Linked DNA regions of Homo sapiens: region 1 is linked to region 2. A link means that fine-mapping ties the variant in region 2 to the expression of a gene that starts in the linked region. Tissue or cell type: activated CD8 T cells. Region 2 holds a variant in brackets; the other region holds the start of a gene. All regions are shown on one strand. Distances are between the middles of the regions.

Region 1 (8,158 bases), 120 kb after region 2:
TAGCCAGGCGTGGTGGCTGGCGCCTGTAATCCCAGCTACTTGGGATGCTGAGGCAGGAGAATTACTTGAACACGGGAGGCAGAAGTTGCAGTGAGCCGAGATCGCACCACTACACTCCAGTCTGGGTGATGGAGCAAGACTCTGCCTCAAAAAAATAAAAATAAAAATAAAATAAAATAAACAGCAGTACTGCTGAATTTCGTTGAGTCTACAATTCCATCAATGATATGACACTTCAACTACAAGACCACTAAGAAGGGGAAAAGTTATCATTAAGAGGTACTAACAATTATAAGACACATTCCCATTTTAGGGTTGTTATCACTTTGGTTTCAGGTCTGGAACAGAAAAGAGATGAATACAAAAAGTTGAAGACTGATCAATAGCATTTCTTCAATACAGACATGTGCGCTCATCACTAAACCAAACAAAAATGTTTCATATTTGCTTAGTTTGTTTAGCTTCATTACCTCAAGCTTTCTCTCTTGAACCAGATATTGTTTCCAATATAAATGAGCCACCCTCCTGTCTGAACATCAGGTAACTGAAGATAGAGAGAGGGGCTTGTCCCCATTTCTTACCTTATGTCTGAGGCTGAACTAAAAAAAAAAAAAAAAAAAAAAAAAAAAAGATTATTTGTGGCCTCTACAGAGGCAGCTTAAATAATGAGGATCAGTGCATCCAAAAGGGAAATATTTTTCCGCCAGGCAAGATTGTAATAAAAGCATCTCATTCATCATCTGCTAAGGGAAAACATGCCATTGCAAAGTCACTTGGTAATGAAAAATCTGGGCAGTTCTAAGCCACTTTTAATCAGAAGATCTCAAAGCAATCCCCCACACTGCCAGCGGCAAAGCTTTGTCACTCACAGGATGCAAAATGGACATCTTCTGTGGTGTTATATACCATGAAGCTATGGTAGAAAAGGGTAAAGCATATGAATAAAAACAAATAATAATAGTTATTGAATATCATTAAGAGGAGTTGGTTACTGGATACAAAAGTACAGTTAGAAGGAACAAATTCGAGTATTCGATAGTACGGTGGAGAAGTTATAGTTAACAATAATTTATTGTGTATTTCAAAATAGCTAGAAGACAGGAATTGTAATGTTCTCAACACAGGGAAAAGGTAAGTGTTTGAGGTGGTAGATATCCCAGTTACCCTGATTTAATTACACATTTATACATGTATACATACCCCAAAAAATATACAACTGTGATATATCAATTAAAATAACAACAAATAAAAATAAATTAAAAAACAAATAATAATTATATCGACATCAACATATAAATACATGGAATTAATTTATTCATTTTTGTAGAGATGAACCTTCGTTATGTTGCCCAGGCTGGTCTCAAACTTCTGGTCTCAAGTGATTCTCCCTCCTTGGCTTTCCAAAGCTCTGGGTGACAGGCATGAGCCACTATGCCCAGCCAATATGTATGATATTTAAATGTGATTGAGTATCAAGCGAGATCACATATGAATAGTTGATCCTAAATCCTCAAACACTACACAATTAATTAGTAGTAGAAGCACATTATAATTCAGAGGATGGACTTTGGAGTCAAACAGAAGTGGGTTCCAGTCCTGTCTCTGCCACATCCTCTCTTTGTGGCCTTGGGCAAATGTCTTACCCTCTTTAAGCATCCATGCCCTCCTCTGTAACATGGGCACCATAAGAATATGCACTGGCCGGGCATGGTGGCTCACTCCTGTAATCCCAGCACTTTGGGAGGCTGGGCGGGGGAGTCATGAGGACAGGAGATCGAGACCATCCTGGCTAACACGGTGAAATCCCATCTCTACTGAAAATACAAAAACTTAGCTGGGCCTGGTGGCAGGCACCTGTAGTCCCAGCCACTCGTGGGGCTGAGGCAGGAGAATTGCTTGAACCTGGGAGGCAGAGGCTGCAGTGAGCCAAGATCGTGCCACTGCACTCCAGCCTGGGAGACAGAGCAAGACTCCATCTTAAAAAAAAAATATATATATATATATATGCACCTCACTGTCACCAGGGTTGGCTGAGATACTCTGTGTAAAGCACTTAGAATAAGGGCTAGCGAACTACAAGTGCTCTGCACAGCTTAGCTCTCGGTGTTTGAACTAGAATAGATGCCCATTTACCCACATCAGGCCCTCTTCCTGCACCTCCTGGCACTTGATTTCAGTGTTTGCATTGCATCACTGCTTCCCTCCCTGCCTGGTTTGGACCGCACAGTCAACTGCCGCGTGTCCTGCCTCATGGAGCCCCTCCCACTTTATCTCCCTGTTGTTCCTGTCTGGATTGTTACAATGTCCTCTCTGCTCCGGGCTTCCCAACTGTAATCCATCCTACGCTGTGGACCACCCATGGCTTTGCTCCTGCCAAGTGGACACTAAACATGGATGTGGCCCCATTTTGTGTTATTGGTTCTATTTGAATTCACATGCTTGCCTTGAGTCCCTGAGTCCCATGTGCAACTAAAACAGAAAGATAAAATCAAAGTAACCCTTTGTTCTTGCGGCTGTCTTCAGTAATATAAGGTGGGTCTGCATTGCTCAACAGAAAGTCTTCCGGTTCATTAAAACTGTACATCATTGGTACCATAAATATCCAACAAATATCAACTTGGCCATGAATTCTAATCAGCTACCTATAATACTACCAAAAATATCTTAATCTGGATGTGGCTATACACTGAAAATTTTGGTTTTTGCTGGTTGGTTATGGGCTTTGGTTTAGTGGTGCTAGAAAAAAACATAGCAGTTTTTGCTGTGACAGAGGATATGGTAAAACTCTCTGTCCAATTTCAGAATGCAGACGACAGACCCAAGCTTCAGTCATTTCATATAAACCTGCAGGGTGTCAAATGAAACTATTTTTTAAATGATGTTTTAACCCTATCTTTGCTGGTTGGCTGTGTTCTTGCTAAGGAGGCTTCTTAGATTCTGTGAAGCAAGCCAGACCAAAAAATAATTTGTTAAACGGATGTGGAAAAATGATTTAAAAAATCAGAATACTTTAGTGATGGATCCCCAAAGACTTCTCAGTTTTTTAAGTCTGGTCCTAAGCTACTTGGCTAGGAAATGACCAAAAATGGTCAAGAGATATCTTTGGAGTGTACCTTTTAGAAAACCTTTCCTCTACACTGCATCTGCAAACTGGGATTACCGGGAACTTTGAAATAATTGTACAGCTCCATCTAATCAGAATACTCAACAATTAAAATTCACTGATGCCAAAAATGGAAAGAAAATAAGTAAATAACTCTTAAGAGCAGTGGCACCATTTTTTTTAAATAACTTCCTCCTCCTGCCTTCAACTCTCAGAAGATTATCACAAAAACATCCATATTATGAATAGTTTTATAGGTCAGTTCCCTTCCGTACCACTAGGCATACACTGATGATCATTTCCAAATTTTTCCAGACTGCTTTGATATCATGTGATTCATTTTAAGTAGAGGCAGTTTTGTGAATTCCCTAGCCAAACTTTTTAGATTGTGGATTTTCATATAAATAAATTGACAGACCGGTGGGGGTGGAGGGGGAAATAGAAAAAGGAAAAAAATGTTTTTGTAAACTATCTTACTCCTAATCTGTTATTGAGTGAGCCATTTTTGGCTCTAAGGCACCCTAGCCCGTTAATTCAAGGTTACCTTCGGTCATTGCCATGGCTCCAGTGCTTATTATCATTGCCTCATCCACATCTTTTGAGAACACTCTGAGAATCTACACGGCTTTAACACACTTCTTCGCACTAGTGAGAACGCCCGCAATGCCTTATTCAGTAAGGTTAAATGAGTTTGTTTGCTGAAACATTCGCCACATGATCCCAACGCTCCTCCAGCTCCATCCCGTCTATAATCGCAGAGCGAACACTCACTCACCTTGGGCGTGTCAATAATTGATGGTCTGGGGATGGAAGCGTGAAACACCACTGCTTCACAGTCCGCCCCATCATCCAGGGACCCGGGCACATCTTCAGGCGTCTCCGCGGGCTGGGCCGCAGTGCGGTGACTTGAATTCCGATTCGCACTGCCATTTCTCTCTGCATGGGTGCTCGAATCTTGCCTTTTCTCTGGAGCTCCTTCTGCGCTTGGGTGTCTTGGCTGTCTGCCTGCTTTGGCCACAGGCTGCACACGGACGGTGGAATGAGTATCAGCCACGCCGGACTGATTGAAGGAAGCACTCTCCCTCGTATTCCCAAAACAGGCGAGCAGAGCTGAGCACGGAAATGGATGCATGCTTCTAGAGGGAGACTTCAGTCTTTTGGTGAGTCTTGCTTTCCACGTGGACATGACTTGCAGTGAATCATTGCAAAGTTCAAACGGGGCAAGGAAATTTTCCAGGGGTCCACATCACCTCCACTTTGCTTATAGGAACTCTTTCCAATTGCCCGAAGAGAAGAACTTGCTAGTGGTTGCCCCTAAATAGAAGTTGGGATGGCAAGGCCACCTTCCCTGAGAGTCACTTAGCCGCTGGGGCCCCTTTGAAAGTGTCCATCCTGGGCAATTTCGCGCTCTTCCTTCTGTGATGCTGTCAGTGGCTAAAGAAAGCTGTTGGGGAGGCATGTGAGTGGCTCCGGTTACAGTTCCTAGGCAGGGCAGACGCTTCAGGGTAGGGTAGTGCCAAGTCAATAGACAATTGCTTCAGGTTACCTAGGAGGCATAAAGATAATGTAGCCTGATAGCATCTGCCATAATAGCGTCAGCCTGCGTATCAATAACATCATAACAGCAGCAAAACCTTCTTTGGTTACCCCCCTTCAAATATTTATTCCCCCAAACAAAACAAAAACGACCCAGTTGTCCATCACAAATGAAGACCCCTAGAAGGGCCACGACCCTAGCAGCTGTTTCATTATTAAAATAGGAGGTAGACTCAATCTTTCGCCTGGAGAGATGCGGTGTGATGTGTTTTCTGAATCTTTCTGGACTTTTCGGGATCTTTCCGGAATCTTCCCGGAATCTTCCCCCCACCCTCAAAACAAGTTTCCTGGTTTCAGGATCCACATTGCCTTTTCTGATAACTATAAATAGGTCTTTGGTAATTTGATTTTTTTTTTTTTACTAGCTAGGCTAAGTTCTTGATTAGTTTTCAACAATACCAAAAAGAAAAAAGAGAGCCCTACATTAACAATTATCCTTATGTATTATGTTATTATGTGTGGAGGTATTATGTACATGTGAAGTATTCTACCTATATGGTATATATCACCTACTTTCAGAAAGTAACTCCTTTTTGAACATAGATCTTCTGTTTCTCAACACATTAATATGTGAATGGTGAAAAATAATAAATTATAAACATATTCTAAGACAATTCAGAATCAAGATTTTTCCTTAGCCAACTGTCTGCTAGGAATGTTATAGAAATGTAATACTGTAATGCTTTTACCGTTAATAGTGATTTTAGGGTCAAGATTTCTGGGCATGTTACCCACTCTTAATTAATTTGTTTGCTCTCTCTTTTAATTTAATGTCAAGATGTGCTCTTTGGCCCAGACAGGTGGTAGTTATTATATTATGGCACTGATTCCCGTTTTACAGAGGCAGAAACCAATTCTTTGAAATTTCATGTGACTAAGGCAAGTTTATGCCACTAAGAAGGGCTTGTTGGGTGCCCGAGATCCCTGTTCTCCTATCTGTCCTCTGAGTCTCATTCTATCTAACAATCATTTTATAGATGTAATGGCCATACGGGAAATATTGTTCTAAATGGACAGTCATATTCATAATACAAAAAGGCAGATATGGCTTTAGAATGAGTGGATATGGCATCAAATGCACATTTTATTTTAGTCTCTACTGAAAGTTAGAATATAGAAAGCTTCCATTTATTTAGAGGTTACCGTGTGGCAGGCCCCGTGCTATCCAAGCTGTTTCTGGCTTCCCAGGGTTGTGAGCTCATTCTTTTTTCATTGTGTCCCAAGTGCAAGCTGTCCAAATTCCCCACCCATAAGAAATCAGGGGGTTCAGGTTTCTACCAGGGTCCCCCCTCCCAGATATTCCTGGAGACCCCTCGGAACTGCACTTTGTCTCCCATTTGACTTGGTTGCTACAGTCCACTCGGGTCGGGTCGTGCCATGCTGTGCCCCTCCAAGCACACGTATAGTAAATCGGGGCTGTGATGCTGCATAAGACATTTTTGAAGGCTTGGAGGTAACAGGAAGGGATTTAAGAAAAGAAAAATGCACTCTTACACCTGGTTTCATTCACTCATTCATATATTCATTCAATTATGTGTCAAGCCCCTTTTGGAACAGAGAGTCAGCAGTTCACAGTGCAGCTTGCGAGCGGCCACATTCAGGAGACCGCTGAGGAAGAAAGCTCAGAGCCACTTTCTAGGTCTGCGGAGGCCCTGGGCTTGCATCCGGGCTCTGAGGACCACCTCTCCTCGCTCAGTGGGTGTGCTCAGAGGCACGCATGAACTCATCGGAGTTCCAGCACTGGCCCGCTAAGAACAGTAGACTTTCTGATTAGTGTGTTGCTAAGTCTGACCTAGAATAACACTCAGTAACAGGCCATGGTTATTGAGTGTTTGGTATCAGACATGAATCTCAGCAAATTAACTCATTTAATCCTCACAACCCTAGAAGAAAGGTGATATTATTATTCCCATTTTTACTCATTAGAAAACCAAGACACAGAAACTTAAGTAACTTGCCCAAGGTCACAGCACTGCTTAAGGAAATGAGAAAAGGTGATGAGTCCAGCAACCTGGCCCCAGAGCTCATACTTTTCTCAGTATGCAATCCTGCTTTCCAAAAACACACATGCACGTGCACACACACAGATACATACTCCAGAGAGGACATTTCCAATGACCTTGATCCAACACTCTACCTCTAAGAAGTTATTTTGTAATGACGATCTTTAAAAAGTCAGGAAACAACAGATGCTGGAGAGGATGTGGAGAAATAGGAACACTTTTACACTGTTGGTGGGAGTGTAAATTAGTTCAACCATTGTGAAAGACAGTGTAGAGATTCCTCAAGGATCTAGAACTAGAAATACCATTTGACCCAGCCATCCCATTACTGGGTATATACCCAAAGGATTATAAATCATGCTACTATAAAGGCACATGCACACGTATGTTTATTGTGGCACTATTCACAATAGCAAAGACTTGGAACCAACCCATATGTCCACCAACAATAGACTGGATAAAGAAAATGTGGCACATATATACCATGGAATACTATGCAGCCATAAAAAAGGATGAGTTCATGTCCTTTACATGGACATGGGTAAAGCTGGAAACCATCATTCTCAGCAAAATATCACAAGGACAGAAAACCAAACACCGTATGCTCTCACTCATAAGTGGGAGTTGAACAATGAGAACACATGGACACAGGGAGGGGAACATCACATAGCAGGGCCTGTCAGGGGGTGGGGGCTGAGGGAGGGATAGCATCAGGAGAAATACCTAACGTAAATGACGAGCTGATGGGTGCAGCAAACCAACACGGCACATGTATACCTATGTAACAAACCTGCACGTTGTGCACATGTACCCTAGAACTTAAGGTATAATAATTTTTTTAAAAAAGAATTTATTCTGTAGATATACTTGTGCATAAATGTATGTCCCAGAATGTTCGCAGCACCAGAGTTTGTAATCACAAAATTAATTGTTAATCAATAGAAGACAAGTTCATATATAAGAAAACATCTGGCTGGGCGTGATGGCTCATGCCTGTAATCCCAACACTTTGGGAGGCCTAGGTGGGAGGGCCCTTTGAGGCCAGGAGAGTTCAAGGCCCGTCTGGGCAACATAGTGAGCCACCGTGTCTACAAAAAAAAAGTTTTAAAAATCAGTTGGGCATGGTGGTGAGTGTCTTAAGTCCCAGCTACTTGAGAGGCTGAAGTGGGAGGATCGCTTGAGCCCAGGAGGTGGAGGTTGCAGTGAACCGAGATTGCCCCACTGCACTCCAGAGCCTGGGTGGCAGCCCCTCGCAAGCTGCACTGTGAACAGCTGATTCTCTCCAGAAGGGGCTTGGCACATAATTGAATGAATAAATGAATGAGTGAATGAAATCAGGTGTAAGAATGGATTTTTCTTTTCTTAAATCCCTTCCTGTGACCTCCAAGCCTTCAAAAATGTCTTGTGCACCATCATATTTTAAGACTCTGTCTTAAAAATAAAAAATTTAAAAAAC
Region 2 (8,198 bases):
ACTAGAATCAGGCCTTTGCAAAATGTGCCCTGACTTTTTGAGTCTTAGAACTGTTCTGTTTCCATGGCTCAGAAAAAGCCAAGGGCAGTTTGTTCTTTTTATCAGTTTCTCCTTGGAGAAGAAAGCTGAAAATTTCCATGATTACCATGCACACTGGAGTTATGCTGATCGAAATCTATCTAAAAGGTGCCAGGCACACAGCCAGGCGGGCAAATGCTCTCAAAGGCAATTTCACATCACCAGCCTTGCTGAGCAAGAACAGAAGCTGTTCTTCACTCCAGCCTCTCAGGAGCACACAGTGGCCTCTCAGTTCCCCTTTCAAGGAAGAGCTCTGGGAGAAAAGCCCATGGTTCGGGAACTTTTCCTGAGACCTCTAAGCACCTGTGCCATCATGGTGCAAGCTAGAACTGTTATTTCTAGCTGTGCAGCCACAGTCATCCATGTGGTTCCATTTCCTTGGTGGCAATGCACAGTTGCAAAATATTTTGTAATTATTCATTACTGAAATCACAAAAATGCCCCTAAAAAGTATAGTATTAGCCTCTTATACACAGTAAAATGTAACCGCGGGAAACTTCAGGGAATTGTGTAAAGATCACTGGGTGAGGTAACGCCCACAAGCTTGAGGCTAGTGTTTTCTCCTGTTTCCATAGCAATGACCCCACACGATCTTACCTGCTCCTCAGACCACAGCCAAGGAAGAGATTTCTGACAAACAAGCAAAAACACAACACTGTCCACACAACTGTAAATATGCAAGGAAGAGTTTCTTCTTGCCTGAAAACTGTAAGGTTTATTATTTGTTTGTGTTTCTTCCTTTCATCTCATATTTCTTCTAACGTCATAAGCCTGGCATTTAAACCCCAAATGCCTGCAGGGGCCAGGCAGGATAGGGAGGTACCAGCTAAAAAGGCAACTCCAGTTGATTTTTTTTTTTTTTCCACTGCTTAGGAATGCAGGCCTGGTTTGGCTAGTTCTTACAATTTCTCAAGAGAAATTGGAACCTAGATTTTTACATGAAATTTTCCAGTTTTTAAACATTGGCAACCAATTTTCAAAAAATTTGCAAGCCACAAAAACACATCTACAGCTGAGTTTGCTCTGGTTGTAACATCAGTCATAAGCAGTTGAAATAACCTTTCGGGTCTTCAGAATTACTTCCTATTTTCTGAATATCTGTGTGGAATATAGACCGCATATTAACCCTAATTATTAATTACAGCTATGCATTAATTCATTAATGAAAGCCATAATTCATTGGAGAAAGGTCTTTAGTAACATATTGCTGTTGCGTTTTATTATCTCTTGCTCTCATCATCTCTCTGTGGTGAAGGATAAGAAATCAGAGGTGATCTTAGCTAGTTTCGTTTAAGACTCTTAGCTGTTGTTTAAGGCTCAAAACAAAATATCTGATTATGTATTCCATTTTGCACAGAAACAAACAGCATTTAATCCAAATATTTTGGCCCACATAGGGTAATTCAAAAATAAATGATTTTATGATTTAAGTCCATTCTTACGCTCAAATAAGCATGTTCAAGTTGAGTTGAAATACACCAGTAACTAAGTAGATATGCTTTGCGATAGTCAACTTCAAGGTGAAAAAATCCCGTTCCCTTTTACTAATCATTAAAATCATTAAATGCCCCTCAGTGGATGCATAGAACACTGTGTTCAGAAAAGGTCAGAGAACTGTGTTCAGAAAAGGAATTTTAAGAAGCTTGAGAATGCTACCATTTTAACCAGTCTGTGGGGTAGTGTCTCAGTTCATTCTGCATTGCTATAAAGAAATACCTGAGGCTGGGTAATTCATAAAGGAAAGAGGTTGATTTGACTCATGGTTCTGCAGGCTGTACAAGCATGGCACCAGCATCTGAGGCAAAAGGGGAGCTGGCATGTGCAGAGATTACATGGCAAGAGAGGATGCAAGAGAGAGAGAACGAGGTGCCAGATTCTTTAACCGTCAGATCTCATGGGAAATAAGGGTGAGAGCTCCGTCAATCCATCAAGATTGACACTAAGCCATTCATGAAGAAGGATCTGCACTTATGACCAAAACACCTCCCTTTAGTCCCCACCTCCAACACTGGGGATCAAATTTCAACATGAGATTTGGAGGGGACAAATATCCAAACCATAGCAGTAGTAAGTAGTCAAAGAAGATAGTTTGCATTTAGTGTTTTAATTATTTTTGATAGGGTTTTCTTTTCTTTTTTTTCTATCTCAGCCTCACAAATATTTTGTTTTGTTTTGTTTTGTGACGGAGTCTTGCTCTGTCGCCTAGGCTGGAGCGCAGTGGCGCAATCTTGGCCCACTGCAACCTCCGCCTCCCAGGTTCAAGCGATTCTCCTGCCTCAGCCTCCCGAGTAGCTGGCACAAACGTTTTAAAATATGTTATGGTTGTGTTCAACACAGTGACTGTGCCAAGGGACCCTCTCTTAGTTCAGGTTCCCTTAGAAGTAGACCCTGAGGCAGGGATTCAGGGAGAAGCAGTTCATATGTGAAGGGAACAGGAGGAGAGGTGGGAAGCCGGGACAGGGGAGGGAAAGCAGCCACCACAGGATTTATGCAGCTGGCTACTCCTGTAGGGACTGAGGCTTAACCCTCCTGGGGATCCCTGGGAGCCAGCTCCACAGCTACCTACCCTAGGGAAAGTGAGCTGCAGTATTTATTCACAAAGTCTGATCAGGGATTGGGTGACAATTACTCCTCAGGGGCTTGAGGCAGGTTCTGGGGTGAGAGGAAGCCTTTACAGAGAGGCATGCAGGTGCCAGAAGTGGGGTCACAGGCACTGAAGTGAAGGGCAAGGGGAGAGGGGCTGGGTGCTGAGTGTCGGCCATGCACTCCAACTTCATCAGCTCCTCCTCCCCATCGCTGATATAAACAATTGATATTTTCTCATCTTCCATAAAGCGCTGTGCAGGAACGACTTTAGGACAAGTCCTTTAATGTCTTTTCAACCTGTTCTGGCCCCTGTGCTCCTCCTAGATACAAATTCTGGAGCAGCAACTGATTTACCAGGAAACACTGAGGAGTAGAGCAAGGTAAGGTGGCTCCTACACCACTCCGAACCAGTGTGGGGCATGGGGGCGATAAAGAGGCTGACTTCACAGGGAACTTCCAGGGCCAAAATTTCACTTCATTTGAAGGTTTTCAGGAAAACATGGGTAAATTGCAAAAGCAACGCCAACAATTACCATCTTTGAGATTTGAAAACTTTGGATTTTCTCTCTTGGGAGGCTTTGTGACCACCAGTTGAAATTTCTAGATGACAATTTCCACCTTCCATGTCATCAGAATGGAAGGAGAGGTGCACTCCAAGGAGACAAGTGACTGGACATTCGGGTTCCTGGCATGCAATACAAGTTCTTCTTTTTATACCAATGTGGGGGAAGGAAGTGAGAAGTAAGAAGTGGGTAGAGAGATTCCTCCAGGATGCAAACAGTTAAAGATCATCACTTTACTTCTGATTTTGGATGTTAATGTCACCTTCAGAATTCCTCCTTCTCTAAGAAATTTTTACAAAGGGCCAACATTAAATTTTAAACAAACAAATAAGAAAATAGTAAAAGAAAGTGAAAGAGTGTAGAAACGCAGCTTGCAGCACACACAAAAAATTAGGCAATTCTGCTTCAATTTGTGCACACTGAAAATTTCATTCCTGGTAACCGGTAACTGGTTCACCTTACAACCTGGGCAAACTTCTGGAAAGTTCCATGCCTCCATTCCCACTGTGTTAAGAGGACATAGGATTGGATGGAGAAGAATAGGTCATACTAACTAGACTACTGAGGTGTCCCATGGGCATGTGAGCACAATGTCAAGGCTAAACAGCTTGCTGCACAGGTGCAGCTCAGCTCCTCTTTAAGGCACATGTGCCCAGTCCATCAACACCACATCAGGCTCACCTTGAATACAGAGGACTAAATCAAACCCTCATTTTAGGTATTTTTGTATTTTCCCATTTATGAACAATAAATGATCTGTTAAATTTCCTAAACAGAAAAATCTGGAAGCAATTTGCTCTCTGCCCATGTAGAGAGGGGAAAGCACAGACTGCTCTCCAATGACTCTGAGGAGGATGAATGACAGGGTTTCCAAACCCTGAGTGGTAACACCACTTAACAGATTCGGCCTAGGAGGGTGCTTTGTACTTGGAAATCCTATCTCATTAGCCTGACACCTTCTCAAGGCAAAATGGCAGAGGACTGGACACAGATTGGCACATCTTGAAATAGGCAGGCCAGGAAGTCTCGTTCACTTCAGACTAGGAGCATACCATTGCTGGCCTTACCCTCCCAAAGACAGACACCTCCAGCCCCAAATCTTCACCCCCACCCCTGGTCACCAGAGAAACATCTCCTTGGATTCCAGGGCAATTTCCACAGACTTAGCATGTGGAAATAAATCTAGAACCTAGATGGAAAACCAACCAACTTTCTCCTACTTACACTTAATAATGCAAGATTTATAAATGAGTTCTAGAAACATTTTCTCTTTGTTAATATATATTACAGCCCGTGGCCTCTTGTTCACTGGTGTTTTAAGTTCTTGGAACAGGGATTGTATGACTTTCATGTCTATGTTCTTCTAATAAACCTCCAGCAACAAGCATGTTGCCACCTTCACTTTTTTTTTTCCTTTTTTTTGAGGCTGGTCTCACTCTGTCGCCCAGTCTGGAGTGCAGTGGCGCGATCCCAGCTCACTGCAGCCTTGGCAGCCCAGACTCAAGAGATCCTCCCACCTCAGCCTCCCAAGTAGCTGGGACTGCAGTCACACACCACCACACCCGGCTAATGTTTTCTCTTTTTTTGTAGGTTGGGGTTTTGTCATGTTGCTCAAGCTGGTCTCCAACTCCTGGGCTCAAGCAATCCACCCACTTCGGCCCCCCA[A/G]AGTGCTGGGATTACAGGCGTAATTAGCACCTGGCTAACCTTCATTTCTTGGGAAGAATTTATACGACAGTGAAAATCCAATTACTATTATTTGAAATAGAGACAAAATGTTGAGATTCTTTAGACTAAAATACAAGCTATGATAGTTGAGTCCCATAAAAGAGTTTAGAGGTCAGGTCTTCACTGAAAGTCATCATCTACAACCCCCAGGAGCATTTCCCCTAAGAAAAGACTTCCTGTGACCCCACAGACTGTCCTACGGTTAAGGGAACAGAAAGAAAGTAAACTCAGGACAAAGGAAGTCTATTTAGCATCTTGAAGGCAAGACCCATGTCTGACCCATGTCTGACTCATCTTTGACTCTCCGTGGATTAGCATGGTTTGCTTTATATGTGTTAAGTACCCAAATAAACAACAGTTTTTACATCAAAAGTCACGTTGTAAACCAGACTCAATCATTCATTCATGCATGCATACTTTAGTCAAACAACCATTACTTTTCAGTTCCTACATAGTCCAAGAATTGTGCGAGGAGCTGGGGGCAGAAAACAAAGAGAAAAAGACGCAATTCCAGTTTCTGACTCATCTGCTTCACTTGATTTAGCCAAAAGGCCAAGAAGTGATTGATTCATCTACTTGCTTCAGCAAGTTTAAAAAGAGCAAGGGTTCATTCCCCATTTAATAAATATTCACTGAGTGCCTCCTATATGTCAGGCTCCATCCTAGGCATTCATTATGTTTGCAGCAGGACAAAAAATGGTCAAACATCCCTGCCTTCATGATGCTTACCTTCTAGAAGGGGACGACAGACAAAAAGCAAGTGAATTATATAATGTGTGGATAGTGACAAGTGGTTTCAAAAACCAAAACAAACAAGGAAGTAAGAGTTGAAGGAAAGGTTGCAGTTTTGCAGAAAGTGGTCAAGGAAGCTCTCACTGAAAACAAAGACCCAACAGAAGGAGCTGTGCAGACCAAAAAGTCCCATAAAGAGTCTGGGGACCAGGTCTTCACTAAAAGTCCTCTACTATCCCCAGTAGCATTTTCCGTAATTAAAGGCCTCCCATGAACCCTCAAACTGTCTGCCCTGGCTGGGCACGGTGGCTCACACCTGTAATCCTAGCACTTTGGGAGGCTGAGGTGGGTGGATCACCTAAGGTCAGGAGTTTGAGACCAGCCTCACCAACATGGCAAAACCCCGTCTCTACTGAAAATACAAAAATTAGCTGGGCATGGTGGCGCGCACCTGTAGTCTCAGCTCCTCCGGAGGCTGAGGCAGGAGAATTGCTGGTGGGGAGGGGGCAGAGGTTGCAGTGAGCTGAGATTGCCCCACTTCACTCCAGCCTAGGTGAAAGAGCAAAACTCCGTCTCAAAACAAAACAAAACAAAACAAAACAAGCAAACAAAAAACTGTCTGCCCTAAGGTTAAGGGAATGGAAAGAAAGCAAACTCAGGATAAGTTTCCCTTCTTTTTTTCTCACCTTCCTACCTCAACTGTTTTCTGTTCATCTGTGGCCAAAGACTCAGAAAAATCTGTATGGAAGATAAACAACTCTTGCACAAAATCAGAGGGGTGTGTGACTGAGATATAGTGGGTTCTGGTGGAAACTGCACTGTTGACTGTTCTCCCACGACATGAAAGTAAAAGCAGACACTTTGTCTGAATTGTCAGAAAATGGGTCTCGTTTTGTCACCTCCTAAGATGCCCAGCAAGGAGATCTGAACTCCAAGTGTCATGGACCTTCCCGCAGAGGGGCTGGCCTTATGTGCGCAGCAACAAGGAACTGCTCAGTGGAACCCCAGTCTCACTTCCCCACAGAAGTTACAAAAATACTTATTTTTTTTTCTCATTTCATCCATTTTTAGGTAAAGAATTTTAACTGTTTGGGGTTCGTTACTTCACACTTAAGAAATCTACAAACCACAGGAAATGAAACTTGACTAAATGCAGATGACACAGACAGCCAACTCCGAAAATGTGCTGGGCTCCACTCAGTTCTAGGTGACCTTTAGCAAAAAGAGGGTGTTCTGATGAAACCCTTTGACCATAACCAACAGCCTCCAACTTACAGGATTCTCCCCTCGTATGACCAAGTGGTGTAATCTTTGAGGTCCTGGCAGCACAGGTTGAGTGCAACCTAAAAGAGAATGAGGATTCCACAAGGTCTTCTGGAATGGTACACTTATTGGAAACTTGTTTCAGCATTCAAAAAAACCTGGCCTGTTTCTAAAGCAATGCATGGTTTAAGAGGAATGGCAAATTGAAGCCAACGTTTTTCAAACACATTTCACTTAAAAAAAAATGGCCACTAGAAAGAATGCAACTTATTTTCAAAAAGAATTATCTCAAGAAAGCATGGTTGGCCCATTCATCCATCTCCCTGCCCACAAGGGAATGAATGAATGAAGACAAGATGTGCCACCTCTGAAAGACTGTTAATCTCCCTCTCTCTATAAAAGTGGTACTATGTAATTTCTACTCATTTGGTTACAAATAAAATTAGTAAGTGAAGGATCCGTAGTTTCTGTATGTCACCTACAAACCTGAGTCTTTGTGCTAAAATTGTTCAAATATTCAATTGAATCTTATTCAATACCAATGCTTTTGTATATTGCATGTGGTATATGTGCATGGTGCTTGGCTTATTCTGAGAGCCATTTGGTGGAATAAGAAGAGAGTAAATGAAGCCTCATTCTAGAACTTTCTTTCTAAAGTAAAAAGGCAGAGCAACCCATAGAAGGCTCTAGAAAAGGAACACATACCATGGAAAGGAAAAAGGAAAGAGATGCTACCCAGGTCATGAGGTTTGGATTTGTGTCCTTCCCCAAACCTCATGTCAAATTGTAACCCCCAATGTTGGAGGAGGGGCCTGGCAGGAGGTGACTGGATCATGTGAGTGGATTTTCCCCTGTTCTTGTGATAGTGAGCTCTCACTAGATCTGGTTGTTTAAAAGTATGTAGCACCTTCCACTTCGCCCTCTTCCTCCTTCTCCAGCCATGTAGGACCTGCCTACTTCCCCTTCACCTTCTGCCACAACTGTAAGTTTCCCAAGGCCTCCCCAGCCACGCTTCCTGTACAGCCTGCAGAACTGTGTTCCAATTAAACCTCTTTTCTTTATAAATTATCCCGTCTCAGGTAGTTCTTTACAGCAATGCAAGAACGGACTAATTTACCAGAAAAGTGTGATGGTTGATTCTCTGTGTCAAATTGACTGCGCTAAGGGGTGCCCAGATTAAACATTATTTCTGGATGTGTCCAAGACAGTGTGTCCAGATGAGTTGAACATCTAAATCAGTAAACTCAGTGA

What was found. PIP is the estimated chance that this variant, and not a neighbour inherited with it, causes the effect.
Region 1: it holds the start of FAM107B, and the variant in region 2 is fine-mapped to the expression of FAM107B in activated CD8 T cells (Schmiedel 2018, PIP 0.95).

The regions. Positions count from the first base shown.
Region 1 is chr10:14,770,375-14,778,532 of GRCh38, forward strand. It overlaps FAM107B (family with sequence similarity 107 member B), which reads right to left and starts at 4,523. Exons shown (of 5, transcript NM_031453.4): 1 at 3,879-4,523. The coding sequence starts at 4,289.
Region 2 is chr10:14,653,181-14,661,378 of GRCh38, forward strand. The region is part of intron 2 of FAM107B (family with sequence similarity 107 member B); the gene reads right to left. It overlaps LOC105376429 (a long non-coding RNA gene), which reads left to right. Exons shown (of 5, transcript XR_930691.4): 2 at 654-786; 3 at 1,850-1,985; 4 at 2,989-3,044; 5 at 6,756-7,401. Among named protein-coding and RNA genes, the nearest start is that of FAM107B, 120 kb to the right of the region's middle. RefSeq lists an enhancer at 6,867-6,956. The variant A/G (reference allele first, on the strand shown) is at 4,893.